2 separate regions of the Homo sapiens genome follow, and region 1 is linked to region 2. A link means that fine-mapping ties the variant in region 2 to the expression of a gene that starts in the linked region. Tissue or cell type: whole blood. Region 2 holds a variant in brackets; the other region holds the start of a gene. All regions are shown on one strand. Distances are between the middles of the regions.

Evidence for each region. PIP is the estimated chance that this variant, and not a neighbour inherited with it, causes the effect.
Region 1: it holds the start of GMPR2, and the variant in region 2 is fine-mapped to the expression of GMPR2 in whole blood (INTERVAL, PIP 0.94).

The regions. Positions count from the first base shown.
Region 1 is chr14:24,230,505-24,235,504 of GRCh38, reverse strand. GMPR2 (guanosine monophosphate reductase 2) reads right to left here and starts at 2,576. Exons shown (of 10, transcript NM_001002002.3): 1 at 2,528-2,576; 2 at 2,165-2,286; 3 at 1,907-2,026. The coding sequence starts at 2,251. NEDD8-MDP1 (NEDD8-MDP1 readthrough) reads left to right here and starts at 3,138. Exons shown (of 7, transcript NM_001199823.3): 1 at 3,138-3,255. The coding sequence starts at 3,238. NEDD8 (NEDD8 ubiquitin like modifier) reads left to right here and starts at 3,138. Exons shown (of 4, transcript NM_006156.3): 1 at 3,138-3,255. The coding sequence starts at 3,238. RefSeq lists enhancers at 2,948-3,242, 2,409-3,274.
Region 2 is chr14:24,252,507-24,257,506 of GRCh38, reverse strand. It overlaps TGM1 (transglutaminase 1), which reads left to right. Exons shown (of 15, transcript NM_000359.3): 10 at 1,430-1,518; 11 at 1,990-2,143; 12 at 2,254-2,535; 13 at 2,683-2,843; 14 at 3,219-3,355. Among named protein-coding and RNA genes, the nearest start is that of TGM1, 8.2 kb to the left of the region's middle. The variant T/G (reference allele first, on the strand shown) is at 2,636.

The DNA.
Region 1 (5,000 bases), 22 kb after region 2:
ATCTGGGTTGGATTTCATCTGCCAGCACATTCACTGCTTCTGACTTAAAAGGTGACAAGCTGCTGGTGCAGTGGGACAGGCAGCAGACATGAAAGAACCATGAAGAAGCTGGATGGAGCCTGTGTTTCTCTGCACTGACTCAGCCCCTCCTCCTAAGGTAACCTAGTACTAAACTATTTTTGGTTATGTTCTCGTTCATTTACCAGCAGTAATTCAGTAGATCTGGATGCTCACCAAAGGTAATGCCTTAAGGTTGATAAGAGCTGATAAGGGGCTACCCTACCCTGTCTCCATCTCTAGTGGAAAAAAGGACAAATTTCCTAGTTGGGGACATGGATCAAGCTAAAAAATCTGTTTCATTCAGTCCATTTTAATAAAGTTCAAGGACATAATGACTCATCAAACTCATATTCTCTAGCTCAACAGATTGCAAACAATATCCCAATACTTTGAGGAAGGCATTCAAAGGCCATTGTGTATGCTGGTGTTTGTGCCTTACATGTCTACATGCAAACAGACAAGAGACAGCAGTTGGCTGAAACAGCACAAATCTTGCAACTAACAAGAAACCCAAGGAAGTCATGTATTAGCTAGCAACAAGTGCTCTACATACGTACTCAGAGATCAACAATATCTAGCTAAAGCTGGTATTGAATTCTGCTTTCTCAACAACTCTATCATCAACATACTGATAAGCAAAGAAAAGTCACCATAGGATAGGAAGTCAGCAGATGTTGGAGATATACTGGCAGAGTGTGGCATGATGAGCACATCAGATTACATACCAAACTTAGAAAAAGATGTTTGCTTGCATCCAACCTTTTTATTACAGTAAGACTTGGCTCTTATCTCTAAAACCTGATTTCTTTACCTCTCGTCAGCAATACTGAAAGCCAGGCTCCACATAAAGCATCAAGACAGTCCCCAAAAAGGTTCATGTATTACAGCACGCCTGTTAACTCTGCAGTCAGAGTCACCAATTCTGAACTCTACTGGTCAGGGCAGATGGACAGTGGGCAACAGAAAGATTCCTAAGCAGTTACTGAATGGCAATAAAAATAAAGTAAAAATAAAACTGCATAACTATCAACCTTAAAGAAATGACAAGACATTCCACAAAGACACAGCAATCAAAAATAGAAAAAGGATATGAAGTCCTTAAGACTAATGGAGCCACAAACAATAGCAGAATTCATCAACCAGGGCTACATGGATCAACCAGCAGAGTGCATATGTTCTCAAAGTGCCCAGATAACTCTCTACCTTCTCAGCAACAAGTATAGAGGCAGGTAATAGTACTGACAGGAGCAGCATCTTCCATTTCAAAGTGAACAACTTGTATATAAGAAAAACACATCCCATTTGGGGCACATCCCAGAAACTCCCAGGAACCTAGGACTTAAAGAAGAGGAAGATTAAAAAAAGAATGGCAGAAGTATTCTTTTATTAATGAATTGTTCTTATTAAAGAAAATTAATAAGCTGCTTCTCCTAGGATCTTCTAGTTAGGATTTTTGAATGCTTAAACTGTAGTTTCTGGACTAAAACAGTGAATGCTTAATGTGGACAATCGCATAACTGAAGGGATGCATGTGACTGTGAGGGGGTGACCTGGGTGGTGGGAAAAGTTGGCAAGGTGTACAAACTGCTAAACAGGACAAAAGGGAAAATTCTGTTCATATATCAGAAATATCGGAGCAGAACTTAGCTTTGAATCTCACTAATTCAGATGGCCTTTTGAACTTATCAGATAAAGGGCTTCAGTAGTGGAAAAAACCGTAAATCAGAGCATCCTGACTGCTAACTGCCAGAGAACTGACTGGGCATGGGGGTGGGGATGCAAACACCTCTGCAGTCAGCTGGGCTAACTGGACACCAATAGGGATGGGGCATGAGGAAAGCCCTACCTTACAGAGAACCTTGGCCATCTCAAAGGTGCCCACAGTATCCATATTGGCAGCAATGATGGGAACCCCAGAGTATGTCTGCTTTGAGTTCCGAAATGAAAAGGATCTTGTGAGATCCACCTGCAGATATGAACAGGAAATTGACCATTTCATTAATCCAAAAAACGTACCATATTAGGACAAGGACAGGCATCTTTCTTGGTTGTGGCCCACCGGGAGCGTGGGGTCAAGAAACAGCAAGTAGAGAAGCTTGCTCACCTCACTTCGAGACTTAAGGGTACTGCGTTTGGGCCTCAAAAGGACATCCTTGAAGTCCAGTTTCACATCGTTGTCAATATGAGGCATGGCGCTTAGCCTCGGGGTAGCGATGAATCTGAGGGCTGGAAGGCAGGAAGTCATAAGGACCAATCTTCCCCTGGGCTTTAACGCCCTGTTACGGCTGGTGGCCTCTCTTCGCTTAAGTTGTGGAAGGTCGGGCAAAGGCCGAAGTGTGGTCCCTGAAGCCTGTCACCTCGACCCATCCCGTGGCTGCGATTACCCTAGGGCTCCATCCCAGGTACTGTTTGTTGGGGAGGAGAGCTGGGAAAGGGTTGTGAGAGACCCTGACGGTGCATTCCTTACCCCGCTACACTTCCTTCTTCTACCCCTGCAAAGAGCAATGGGGCAAGAGGCTGATTTAGGGGAACGAAGGAATGTTGGCGACGGGGGGCGGGGAGGGTTCATAACTAGTTTCCGGAATAGAGGTACTCACTTCCTGTTGCCTTGGTCCAGGCGGCAGTTGACCAAAGACCACCTTGCTTAGCAACTAACCTCGTGCAATCCCGCTAAGCCTTCTGGGCCACGCCAACAGGTTCCTCTAGTTGCCGGCGAGAACTACTAGCCGACGAATTCCAGCTTCGGCGGCGGCAGGGCGAGGCCTTCTGGATAACAGAGTTCACGCACTGAGGTTGCTGTTGGATCCGAGGGGGTTAGACTACAACTCCCAGGGGGAAACGGGCGGGACCGCCTCCTGGCACGATGGGAGATGTAGTTCGTTCTGCCCCCACTTTTCGCTAGCCCGGGCTCGCCAGGGACTCTCAGAATCGCAGAGTCGTCATCTCTGCTGTTGCTAAACTGGATGCCTCATTCCAATTTACGACGTCACTGAACCGAAACGCGGGAGCAACCCTGAGCCTTTCCGGAACCCAGTGGGGGGGGGGGGGGGGGTGGAGCCAGACAGTGACCCGGAAGTAGAAGTGGCCCTTGCAGGCAAGAGTGCTGGAGGGCGGCAGCGGCGACCGGAGCGGTAGGAGCAGCAATTTATCCGTGTGCAGCCCCAAACTGGAAAGAAGATGCTAATTAAAGTGAAGGTGGGAGCACCTCCAGCCTTGCCAAGACGCAGTAGTACTGGGCTGGCAGCAGTGCCTTACGGGAGACGTGGGGAAGGAAAACCACGCCTTTCCCTAGCCTGGAGGACGCTGACTGCCTCAGGGCTCCGCGCGAGGGGTGGTGGGAAATAGGGGGACCCAGAAGGGCTTTGAGAGCGGGGCCCAGGTCCCACCTGACGACCCTGGGGTATTTTGCCATGCCTGCTTTTTTGCCAGGACTGTGCTATCACCCAGAATGGGGTCGCTTTTGTCGGGTCTCACTGTATTCGAACCCCCGCAGTCATAGAGAAGGCCTAGCAGCGGCTTGACTCCCCCGTCTCTCAGATTCTTGGAGTAAGCGCTGCTCTCCATTCTTCATTCCCAGGGTACCTGCTTCTCCCAGTCCCTAACGTAGGTCGCCTCCGAGCACAGCCCTAAAATCGGGGCCTCCCAAGGGCTAGACTATGAGCCTTTACTGGTGGTTGCCAAGGTGTGGTATCTCACCCGTCCTACAGGAACCAAAGCGGGGAGTGTGTTCAGTCAGTACCTGCCTTTCTGAGCCTGGCATCCTGGACCAGCCTCACTTCCTTGGCTGAGGCAGGTTAGTTACCGCTGCCCTAGTTCTTGCTACTAGCCATGGTTTCCTTCATCTGCATCTCTCAACTCCCGTGGTGGTTCTTCACCAATTTCCAGCCCTCGTTAGTCCTATCTGCTGTTTCCTCTTTTGTGCCTTCAGACAGACAGAGACCCCCCCCCCCACGCCCCCCTCAAAAAAACAAAACTGCTGACAAGTGAAGTCTAATGCTAGTTTGGCCTTTTTGTAGCTAAGTAAATCTATCGTTATTTCATCAGCTTCTTAGCATATTTACCGTACATAATAGTCATTCTTAACCTTCTCTTCCCCAGTCCTTCCAAACTACTTCTTAGCTAAGATTTGAGGTCTAGTATTAAAATAGTATGTTAAAGATGATTTTTTTTAACGTTGAGTAGCGGCCTATATAAGAGTCGTAACATCAATTTAATAGGTGAATGGGTCACTGGCGCCATTAAAAAGAGAAAATAGGCTGGGCGCGGTGGCTCACGCCTGTAATCCCAGCACTTTGGAAGGCCGAGGCAGGCCGATCGCTTGAGCCCAGGAGTTGGAGACCATCCTGGGCAACATGGCGAAACCCTGCCTGTACAATAAATTCAAAAAATTAGCCAAGGGTCTGGGCGCATGCCTGTAGGCCCAGCTATTCGGGAGGCCGAGATGGGAGGATTGATTGATCCTGGGATGTCGAAGCCGCGGTGAGCAGTGATGGCACCACTGCACTCCAGACCCTGCCTGAAAAAAAAGGCCGGGCCCAGTGGCTCACGCCTGTAATCCCAGCACTTTGGGAGGCCGAGGTGGGTGGATCACCTAAGGTGAGGAGTTCAAGACCAGCCTGGCCAACATGGTGAAACCCCGCCTCTACTAACAATACAAAAACTAGCCGGGCGTGGTGGTGGGCGCCTATAATCCCAGCTACTCGGAGGCTAAGGCAGGAGAATCCCTTGAACCTGGGAGGCGGAGATTGCAGTGAGCTGAGATGGCGCCATTGCACTCCAGCCTGGGCGACAAGAGTGAAACTCCATCTCCCCCTGCAAAAAAAAAAAAGAAAGAGAGAGGGGGAGAAAATAGGAAATAATATAGTGCTAGGTAAGGATATTGTTTTATGATTTTTTTTTTTTTTTTTTTTGAGACAGAGTCTCGCTCTGTCGCCCAGGCT
Region 2 (5,000 bases):
AAATCAGGGCTCAGATAGGTTCAAAGAAGAAAATAGCCCTTATGACCCTGCCTTAATATATAATTACTGTTAATATAACCAACGGGTCTCTTTTCTGTGTCCACATACATGTGTTTCTGCAGAAATTAGAACTACCATACACTCTGTTCTCAAACAAACCCCCACCCCTTCTTACCGTGATACCCCAGCCCCAGGCCACCAGGCCTGCCCTGCCAGCTACCTTCTGTCCAGCCTCTCCCTTACCCCAGGTCAGAGAGTCCTCCCTAGCCTACATTCCTCCCCTGGCCTCTTCCCAGTGCCCTCCCTCTCACTCAGATATGTGAACACAGCCCCATGAGCTGTGCAACCCGGTGATGCCTGTGATGCTGAAACAGCCTGTCCCAGACGCTGGCAGATCTGAGCTCTGGCCCCCAACTCTGGGAAGTGGTGGGGTGGACATCAGGCAGGGGGCTCAGGGCCAGCCAGACTGGGGCTTGATCCCAGCCTGATCACTTCTCAGATGTATGCTCTTGGGCAAGCACCTCGAACTTTTAGGCTTTGGTGGTTTGGATGTAATTTGGGGTAATAGATACCATATATGGTGATTGGGAGGATTAAATGAGAAATTCTGTATCTGAAGGGACCAGCAGCATGCCGGGAGTGTAGCAGCTACTCAAAAAGTCTGAGCTCCTTTCATTCTCCCTGCACCACCTGTCTTGTGAGATCCTGGCATGAACTTCACCTTGCTGTTTCCCCGTCTGTAAAGGAGTGTGTAGTGTTATGTCTTGTCTAAGATTCTTTCCGGTTGGATGGTACTCACTTACCACTCTGTCCTCTCTTGCCAGGCCTCTTCCTGTCAGCCTATCTCTTCTAGACAGCCTCCTGAGTATGATAAGGGCAGACTCTATTTCCCACCAGCTCCCCCCAGTAGAAAGGGCAGCAGGCTGCAGAGCTGAGGGTTGTTCCGCATCTCTCTGGAATGGTGGTGGCGGTGGTGTCCTCGCTCTCCCAGCCAGCAGGCAGGGCCACTGTGGACTCTGGGTTGGTTATGATAAAGGATGGGGCGTCCTGTCCTCTGGGGGTCACAGATGGTGGACATCCAGTGTCAGCCAGCCATGAAAGAGTATGTCAGGGACTTGGTTATCAGGCAGGCTGGTCCGCACATCTGTACCCTGCCCCCATCCTCCAGCAGAGCAGCCTGGGCTGAGGAAAGCAGATTGAGAGCCAAATGGAGCCGCTCTCTCTTTGTTTTCCATACCTGTGTTGCACTGGCTGTCAACTGACCCCCAAGTGTTTGGGTCAGGGCTGATGACCTTGTTCCAGAGGCCACCAGGCAGTGGGACCGGGCCTGAGTGGGTGGGGCTGGGGCCCTGTGTGGACCTTACCCAGGGTCTGAAGAGCCCTCTCCGCCTTCTCAGATCTCTTGCCTCTGTCCCGCCTCACTCTCTAGGCATCTTCTGCTGCGGCCCCTGCTCTGTGGAGTCCATCAAGAATGGCCTGGTCTACATGAAGTACGACACGCCTTTCATTTTTGCTGAGGTGAGGGCTGGGCTCCAGGTGCCTTCTTGGGCTTCAGTCATGGGTTCTCTGGTCCCAACTTCACCGCTGACTGACCAGCTCTGCGACCCGGGGCAAGTCACTCATTATACAAGTCAGTTTCCTCACCTGTAAAAGGGGATAATCAAGGCTGCCTTGCTTCCTATACTCGGGATCAGAAGAGATAACGGGTATGAAACTGCTTCACTAGTCGTAAAGTCAGCCATTGAGTGTGAGGGATTACTGATATTGCCAAAGTGCTCTGCCAGGAGCCTCCCAGACCAGCTTCTTCCCTGCACTCTGGCCTCGTCTGGCTCGTCTTGGAAAGTCTCCCCTTGGGCTCTGCCAGGAAGCTCCCACCCTTGGGACCAAGCCCTGTCCCATAGCTCCTGGGATCAGGGGAAGGAGGCCGGGAGTCAGGCCACCCTCAGACCCTCTGGCTCACTCATTCCTGCTCACCCCCACCCCCCACAGGTGAATAGTGACAAGGTGTACTGGCAGCGGCAGGATGATGGCAGCTTCAAGATTGTTTATGTGGAGGAGAAGGCCATCGGCACACTCATTGTCACAAAGGCCATCAGCTCCAACATGCGGGAGGACATCACCTACCTCTATAAGCACCCAGAAGGTACCATTCCCCCAACCCAGCCAGCTCTGGGCCCCACAACAAGTGTTCCTGCCAAGTGCTTGGCCACCCACGTGGGAATTGGAACCTCACCCTTGACCCTCAACCCCCAGGCTCAGACGCAGAGCGGAAGGCAGTAGAGACAGCAGCAGCCCACGGCAGCAAACCCAATGTGTATGCCAACCGGGGCTCAGCGGAGGATGTGGCCATGCAGGTGGAGGCACAGGACGCGGTGATGGGGCAGGATCTGATGGTCTCTGTGATGCTGATCAATCACAGCAGCAGCCGCCGCACAGTGAAACTGCACCTCTACCTCTCAGTCACTTTCTATACTGGTGTCAGTGGTACCATCTTCAAGGAGACCAAGAAGGAAGTGGAGCTGGCACCAGGGGCCTGTAAGTGCTCCTTACCCAGCCCTGCCCCCTGGATGGCTGGGCACCTCAGGGCTGTGGACATGGAGACCCCAGGAGCAGTGGGGAGTCCCTGGGGGAAGCC[T/G]CATGTAGGGAAGCAGGCCTCAGTGACGCCATGCCTCTTCTCCACAGCGGACCGTGTGACCATGCCAGTGGCCTACAAGGAATACCGGCCCCATCTTGTGGACCAGGGGGCCATGCTGCTCAATGTCTCAGGCCACGTCAAGGAGAGCGGGCAGGTGCTGGCCAAGCAGCACACCTTCCGTCTGCGCACCCCAGACCTCTCCCTCACGGTGAATGCAGTTTGCTGGGGCATGAGGGGTGGTCAGAGAGTGAAGGCCAGGGGATAAGGACATCAGAGGTGGGCGCTAAGCCAGCAGCAGGCTGGCCTGATGAGCCTTTGTAGGAGAAGGTCAAGGACCGGCTCTGGGGCCTCAGTTTCCTCATCTGTAGCATGGGATCTTATGTCTCTGGTTCTGTGACAGCCTTTATTGAGGAATAGGTTGGAGTTTCTTCTCTGACTTCTGGGGAATCTTCTCTCAGGAGGATAAATGTGGGACTCGGGGAGGTTTTGCTTCTAAGCAGCTTCCCCTCTCTGGTGCAGTGTACGGTCCCCGTGTGTTTGGCCAGGGTCTCTGACGTGGGGGATGGGCCTCTTTTTCTCTCAGTTACTGGGAGCAGCAGTGGTTGGCCAGGAGTGTGAAGTACAGATTGTCTTCAAGAACCCCCTTCCCGTCACCCTCACCAATGTCGTCTTCCGGCTCGAAGGCTCTGGGTTACAGAGGCCCAAGATCCTCAACGTTGGGTGAGTCTGGCCTCTCCCCCTACCCCTGCTTCCACTCTGGCCTTCCCCACAGGCTGCCCTGGCTCCCAGCTTTGCTCCCTCTCTGTCTGGACAAGTATGTTCTGTCAGGACCCAACCAAGCAGGTTGGGGCCAGCTAGCAATACCTCCCGGCCCAGCTCAGTCCCACCAGCCTTTAGGGAGACCTCTTGGGCACCTGGTGCTATGCCATGTCCTTGCCCTGCCTCACTATCTAATTAGGGAGCAGAAGGCCCACATAGGAATCATTAGTAACTCATTGCTAATATTTGCCCAGCACTGAAGAATTGACCAGGCCCTTTCAGGAATATTATCTCCTTTGGACACAAAAACTCTAATTTAAGTACATTAGAAGGCCAGGTGTGGTGGCTCACACCTGTAATCCCAGCACTTTGGCAGGCCAAGGTGAGTGGATCACTTGAGCCCAGGAGTTGGAGACCAGCCTGGGCAACATGATGAAACCCTGTTTCTACAAAAAATTTTTAAAAAATTAACCAGGTTTGGTGCTGTGCGCCTGTTGTCCCAGCTACTTGGGAGTCTAAGGTGGGAGGATCACCTGAGCCTGGAGAGGTTGAGGCTGAAGTGAGCCATGTTTGTGCCACTGCACTCCAGCCTGGGCGACAGAGTGAGACCCCGTGTGTCTCTCTCTCTCTCTGTCACACACACACACAGACACACACACACACACAGAGACACACACACACAAGCGAAGTTTTGGAATCCTAATGATACGGGTTCAGCTCTAGCACTTACTGGCTATATGCCCTTGGGCAAGCGACTTCTCTCCTTCAAGCCTCAGTGTTCTCACCTGTAAAGCAGGGATAGCAATAGCCCCTGGACCTAGGGTTGTTTAGTGCACTGCTTGGCACAAAGTTAGTGCTCCATTGGTAGTTGTTATTTTTATTATTGCCATTATTACCCCCACTTACAGATGGGGAAGCTGGCGGTCACATCTCATATGGTCTCACAGCTCGTAGGGGGCAAACTCTGCTCTTCCCACTGTGGTGCATACCATGCACAGGCTCTCAAACTCATTGTTTGTTTTGTGCCATGAGGGCCAAGTAGCAGTTCCAGAGGAGAGAACTCCATCCCTCAGGCCCTTACCCAGCCCGTCTGGGCCTGATCCTGGGCTGGGCAAGCCCCTGGGTGTAGTGAGGGCACACACATGCTGTGTTCCTGGGCCTGCGGCTGTCATCTTTGATACAGACTTACACGTGCTGCCCCGTCCCCGCCTAGGAAAAGCACGGAGGGAAAGCAGAGCAGGCCAGAGCCTGGCCTTCTAGATCAGCCTTCTGGGACAGGGGCAGGCTTCATCTTCAGACAGCGAGTTCCTGAGAAAGAACAATGGCTTGGGGTGGGGAAACTGAGGGGAGGAAGCAGAGGACCCCCTGCCCACTTGCCCACCCCTCCCTCACACACAGCAGCTCTCCTGGTGGTGGCTGCCACCTTCGCCATTAGGCCAAAGCTGAGAAGGAAGCTATGTTGATCTTTGCCCCAGCCTGGGCCCCTGGGAATGCTATGATGTGTCACAAAGTAGGGCTTTCCTCATGTCACCATACCATGGTCTCTGGCAGCTCAGTGAACAGAGCCTGAACCCCCCGGGTAGCCTGCTCTGCTAGTCTTGCCCAG